Homo sapiens: one gene and its partner. The protein of the gene in region 1 purifies or fractionates together with the protein of each later gene. This does not show direct contact. Each region holds a gene or a part of one and is shown in the gene's direction. Other genes may lie near its edges.

What was found. The genes of interacting proteins can lie anywhere in the genome.
Region 2: the proteins of HNRNPCL1 (region 1) and HNRNPUL2 purify together in Homo sapiens (affinity purification with mass spectrometry; 2 studies listed by BioGRID and IntAct, with this or other methods). This does not show direct contact.

The regions. Positions count from the first base shown.
Region 1 is NC_000001.11:12,846,826-12,850,271, reverse strand, and holds HNRNPCL1 (heterogeneous nuclear ribonucleoprotein C-like 1), read left to right. Parts: upstream 1-1,551; 5' UTR 1,552-1,591; intron 1,592-1,801; 5' UTR 1,802-1,982; coding exon 1,983-2,864; 3' UTR 2,865-2,895; downstream 2,896-3,446. UniProt on the Homo sapiens protein: May play a role in nucleosome assembly by neutralizing basic proteins such as A and B core hnRNPs.
Region 2 is NC_000011.10:62,714,760-62,717,670, reverse strand, and holds part of HNRNPUL2 (heterogeneous nuclear ribonucleoprotein U-like protein 2), read left to right. Parts: intron 1-481; coding exon 482-682; intron 683-1,733; coding exon 1,734-1,807; intron 1,808-2,063; coding exon 2,064-2,171; intron 2,172-2,291; coding exon 2,292-2,372; 3' UTR 2,373-2,911.

The DNA.
Region 1 (3,446 bases):
AGGACCATCAGATTCCTATGCCTGCTGCACAGTAGCTTACCAATATTTTGAGACAGCAGAGTTTGCAGCAGAGAGTTTAATGATCACAGGGTGGCTAAATGAGAAGCTAGGAGGAGATCCTCAAATTCATCTCCCCAAGGAGGAGATCCACTGAGGGTTTCCAGTGGATCCTGGATAGCAAGGGGCTGGAAAGTTGATATAGAGTTAAGAGGGATGAAGTCATCAGGATGTCAAAACTGCATTCTTTGGTGCGTTGGTGCCTTGTAGGGCCCTTCAGATCAGCTGGCATCAGTACTTTCACTGACATGCAGAACGTAAGAATATCTCAAATGAAAAAGTTAATGTTTTACAAGGCTTAAATTGTTGTCTGCAGGGCAGTTAAGGGGAACTGTAATCTAAGGTCTAAATGATTTGGGGACAGTAGGCTGCCAGCAACCATGAGGAAGAAGGTCAGAGAGCAAGCTGACCTCATGGTGAATGCTGAATGCGCTGCAAGCTTGGTTTATTTTTGTTTCTCCCCCTCCCTTCTTCACTGATTAAATTTATAAAGTTTATAGGTATCGTTTCAATTTCTTCCAAAGAAGCCTTAACCTAAGCACTGAGACCACTCACGCCCTGAGTGGCACCTCTCTTCCACCAGCACGAGTGAAGAAACTGCTACCTTAGGTGATATAAAACCCACAAGACCATTCCATACATGGAGATCTTTATTCTTATTTTGTAGGGATGACTCCGTTTTTATAAAGTTGTTTTAACTAGAAAGCATTTTTATAATTTTGATGTGGCCAAAGATCTCCCCACAACACTACTTTCAGGTTTTATTTTTCTGTCTAATGTCCGGAACAGATCAACCCCTTCCCTGCCTCACACTCAGGACCTGAAGGCGACATAGCAGTAAAATTCCATCAGTGTTTGTGGATTTCATGAATGAATGCATTTTTTTTTTGACAAAATCTCCCTCCGTCACCCAGTCAGGAGGGCAATGGTGTAATCTTGGCTCACTGCAAACTCAGCCTCCAGGGTTCAAGGGATTCTCCCACCTCAGCCACATGAGTAGCTGGACTACAGGCAGCCACCATCGTGCCTGGCTAACTTTTCTATTTTTGTAGAGACAGGGTTTCACCATGTGGGCCAGGCGGGTCTTGAACTCCTGACATCAGGTGATCCACCTACCTTGGCCTCCTAAAGTGCTGGGATTACAGGTGTGAGCCACCTCATCTGGCCTTGAGTGAATGAATTCTTGACTTCCACTCTATCCCTAACGCTGTCAATTTCTTAATTCATGAAATGAATATGCATATGTGATATGAATGGATACCTGGTTCAATCCATTAGTCTTCGGACAGCCAAAAACCCAATCAGGATTAACTGAGTGGAGCTTCAGAAATGCAATCAGATATCGCTTTTTGATTGGAAGCTAGCAGCGGATATGTGGAGGGGCGTGGGTGGGAGTTGTGATTAGAAAGGTCAATAAAAGCTTCTAAAGACCCACAGGACAGACTCAAAGTCTTCAAGCCTGGAGTTCCTGCTTGGCTCTTCCTGAGGTCTGAGCTACAACTACAACCAGAGGTCTAAACTACAACCAGATCTGGTAAGTCACTAATTTCTGGAAGGACACTCCCATCTGACCTACAGTCAGCCGGTCTAGAACGGTGACAGTGCAGCCTACGACGGCACAGAACTATATCCTGTCTTTTTTTCTTTTTTTCATATGAACACTTTGAAGCTTTGATTTTTTTTCTAAATGCAATTTTGTCTTTATTTCAAAAATGTTGTTGTGCTTTTCTTTACATCATTTCAGAATTCTTGTTGGGAGCCATTTTGTGAAGAGACGAAGACTGAGCTGTTTTGGCTGCATTTCTGGCCTCGAGCCGCAGTCAGTTTCTCCCCGTAGAACCCGGCAGTAGGAGACTTAGAATCGAATCTCTTCTCCCTCCCGCCTCCTGTTTTTGGCTTTTTGAGAAACCTTATCATCCAACACAATGGCCAGCAACGTTACCAACAAGATGGATCCTCACTCCATGAACTCCCGTGTGTTCATTGGGAATCTCAACACTCTTGTTGTCAAGAAATCGGATGTGGAGGCGATCTTTTCCAAGTATGGCAAAATTGCGGGCTGCTCTGTTCATAAGGGCTTTGCCTTCGTTCAATATGATAAGGAGAAAAATGCCCGGGCTGCTGTAGCAGGAGAGGATGGCAGAATGATTGCTAGCCAGGTTGTAGATATTAACCTGGCTGCGGAGCCAAAAGTGAACCGAGGAAACGCAGGTGTGAAACGATCAGCAGCGGAGATGTACGGCTCCTCTTTTGACTTGGACTATGGCTTTCAACGGGATTATTATGATGGAATGTACAGTTTCCCAGCACGTGTACCTCCTCCTCCTCCCATTGCTCTGGCTGTAGTGCCCTCGAAACGTCAACGTCTATCAGGAAACACCTCACGAAGGGGCAAAAGTGGCTTCAATTCTAAGAGTGGAAAGCGGGGATCTTCCAAGTCTGGAAAGTTGAAAGGTGATGACCTTCAGGCCATTAAGCAGGAGTTGACCCAGATAAAACAGAAAGTGGATTCTCTCCTGGAAAACCTGGAAAAAATTGAAAAGGAACAGAGCAAACAAGAGGTAGAGGTGAAAAATGCTAAGTCAGAAGAGGAGCAGAGCAGTAGCTCCATGAAGAAAGATGAGACTCATGTGAAGATGGAGTCTGAGGGGGGTGCAGAAGACTCTGCTGAGGAGGGGGACCCACTGGATGATGATGTTAATGAAGATCAGGGGGATGACCAGCTGGAGTTGATCAAGGATGATGAAAAAGAGGCTGAGGAAGGAGAGGATGACAGAGACAGCACCAATGGCCAGGATGACTCTTAAGCACATAGTGGGGTTGAGAAATCTTATCCCATTGTTTCTTTACCTAGGAGCTTGTCTAACAACAAATTTTTCACCAGATCCTCTCCCTTAGTATCTTCAGCACATGCTTACTGTTCTCCCCATCTTTGTCCTTCCCATGTTCATTAATTCATATTGCCCTGTGCCTAGTCCCATTTTCACTTCCCTTGACACCCCTAGTAGTTGTCCTAAGTCTTACCCTGTAATTTTTCCTTTTAATTTTGACACCTCTTTATGACTTAACAGTAAAAAGGATGTATGGTTTTTATCAACTGTCTCCAAAATAATTTCTTATTTTGTTTATTTAGTTTATTTATTTGTTAGTTTAGTTTAGTTTTGTTTATTTGTTATTTAGTTTACTGAGAATGATGTTTTCCAATTTCATCCATGTCCCTACAAAGGACATGAACTCATCATTTTTTATGGCTGCATAGTATTCCATGGTGTATATGTGCCACATTTTCTTAATCCAGTCTATCATTGTTGGACATTTGGGTTGGTTCCAAGTCTTTCCTATTGTCAATAATGCCGCAATAAACATACATGTGCATGTGTCTTTATAGC
Region 2 (2,911 bases), on another chromosome or scaffold:
TTGGCCAGGCTGGTCTCGAACTCCTGACCTCAAGCAGTCCGCCTGCCTTGGCCTCCCAAAATGCTGGGATTACAGGCGTGAGCCACCATGCCCGGCCATCTCTGAGTCTCTTTTTAAAATGTTATTTCTTAGCATCTTATCTGACCAACACCAGAACTTTCTCAGTTACTTTTAGCCTCTGGTTACCTGCTTCTGTCCTGATGAGAAACTTTAACCCAGTTCACTCCTAATTTATTATAGATCACTTAAGAACTTGTAAATCTACATAGCCCTTTGCCTGGGTCTGTTACAATTTAGGGAAAACTTAGAGTAGAAAAAGTTAATGTCATTATTTAGATGCGAGTGGGTATAAACGTAGCACATTTTTGTGCAGTAATAGATGAGGCATAGAAAGTCATATGCTTCTTGTAGAGTTTTCATAATGAGTTCTTACCCATCTATGCACTTTTCAGGCCCACAAGCTTCTCTCTTACTCTTATAGCCAACTTCTCTTTGCCTGAAAAATGCGACTATATGGATGAGGTGACATATGGGGAGCTGGAGAAGGAGGAAGCTCAGCCCATTGTCACTAAGTACAAGGAGGAGGCAAGGAAGCTTCTGCCCCCCTCCGAGAAGCGGACAAATCGCCGAAACAACCGAAACAAGCGTAACCGGCAGAACCGAAGCCGGGGCCAAGGCTATGGTGAGTCTTGGGGACCTGCCAGCCCCCTACTTCAGTCCATTCTTTGTGCTTAGTACAGCAAGATGTGCAAGGGAAGGCCAAGGAAACCAAGTCAGGTCATTAACAATACGGAAGTGCCTTCTTCATGGAGCTTATTTCTTCCTGTGTTCTTTATCCCTGCCTTTTTCTTGTGCTTTTTCCATAATTCTTCAACAACAACAAAAATCCTCTTTTTTAAAAAAGAGTTACTTTTCACAAAAGTATTTGTTTCTTTGAAAAGCAATGCTTGGGCTTTCTCATCTATCTAGTTTTCATTTTAACATATGGGTTCCCAGTGTCACTGTTCCTGTCTTATCTGAAGGATTTGTGCAGTGAAATCAAATTCTCATCTTCAGTTTTCTTGCTTCTGTGTCATTTCGATTAACAAGAAAGCGAATGCTTTATTCAGTGTTTTTTGTGGGGGGAAGAACTTAACCAAGCAAGTTAGGCTATTAGTAGAATTAATTTTCCCCCTGAATGTCTAGTTTGTCAGTTAAAACCCCAGTGTGCATTCACTGCTCTTTAAAAATGTGTGTGTATGTGTGTGTGTAACTGTTAAGTCAGCAGAATTTCCGAGTGCCTGCTATGTGCTAGGTACTGTAAATGCTGACAGTTCCCGCCCTTGAGGAGCTGATTACAGAGACTTTGTTTCTTTTGCATAAAATGATAGGTATGGGTTATACGATATCTGAAATCCCTTCCAGGGCTGAAAGTCTGATTCTATGAATGGCAGTTTTTCCTTATGTTTCTAACTCTGCCATGTATCCTTTTGCCATCTTAAATGTTTTGCAGGAATTGGGGAGCTTCAAAAACAAAGTGGCTTGGTTTTCTTGTGTCTCTGTTCCTCTGCCCTCCCCCCTCAGACTTTTTAAAAGTTCCTGGCTGGTGCTTTAATTAACATGTGTGAGCCTGGCCGAAGCAGGCCTCATATTCCCCCAGAATTGCCTTTGGCTCCAAGTTTTTGATTTCCACCCAGATGTGGAGCCAGGACCCCATGCCAGCTGTCTGAGCGCGCTCTCCATTTCTCTTCCAGTGGGCGGGCAGCGCCGAGGCTACGACAACCGGGCCTACGGGCAGCAGTACTGGGGGCAGCCTGGAAACAGAGGGGTGAGTGCAGCTCTCCTTCTGCTCCTCACTCTGGGCTGTGAGAGCCATTCTGTTGGCTTGGGGGAGCAGAGTGGTTTGCCTGTTTTCTTAGGGCTTAGGGTTTTGCCCATTTAATATGTTCTGGAAGATTTACTATGGGAAAATTAAACCAATTTATAATATCGAGCTAAGATGTGTCGCATTTAAAAGGGGGTCACGGTGGGTCATGCTGCCAAAAACCCATAAACCTTCACTCCTTTTTCTTTTCCTTTCTCAGGGTTACCGTAATTTCTATGATCGATACAGGGGAGACTATGATCGATTTTACGGGCGAGATTATGAGTACAACAGATACAGAGACTATTACAGACAATACAATCGGGATGTGAGTATCTTCTTGGGATAGACACAGGGTGAAGGGGGGCAGGAGCAGAAGGATGAGTGTTATGCCTCTTCATCCTCAGCCAGCTCTGGCTCCAAGTGATGGGGTTTCCCTCTCTTCTAGTGGCAGAGTTACTACTACCACCACCCCCAGGACAGAGACCGATACTACAGGAATTACTACGGGTACCAAGGGTATCGGTGAAGCCCCTGCCATGGTCACCTGTCAGCCATGAAGCTGAATCTCTGGGGGTGCCAGGCACCCCCGCAAAACACAACCAAGGAAAACAGGGGCTGTCGGGGTGGGGCTGAGCTGCCGGGGAGGGGTGGTGGGGGGGGAGGGTGCTCAAGCAGGGGTGGGGGAGGGGGGAGGTGGAAACAAACAACAAAACTGTACATTTTTTTTAAAGTTTGTTGAAAAGAATATTGTCTTATTCTATAAAACATTTCAAACCTAGTTAGAGATTTGTAATCAAAAAACATTTGCGCAGAAAGCAGCACTTAGGGCTGCCTGTTCTATACCCTACAGTCAGACAGGAAAAGAACTGAAAATGGCACCCTTCTGACATTCTGAGGCAGCTGGACTGGCAGCCAAGTAAAGGAGAGTGATGAGGTGGTGTGGGGAGGGTGGGGAGGCAGCGCGAGGGTGCTCTCCACAGCAGGTAGGAGCAGGCAGGAGTGGGGACAGAGGGAGAGCTTGTGACTGGGACAGTGAAAATAAACGATTGGCTCTTATCAATCACT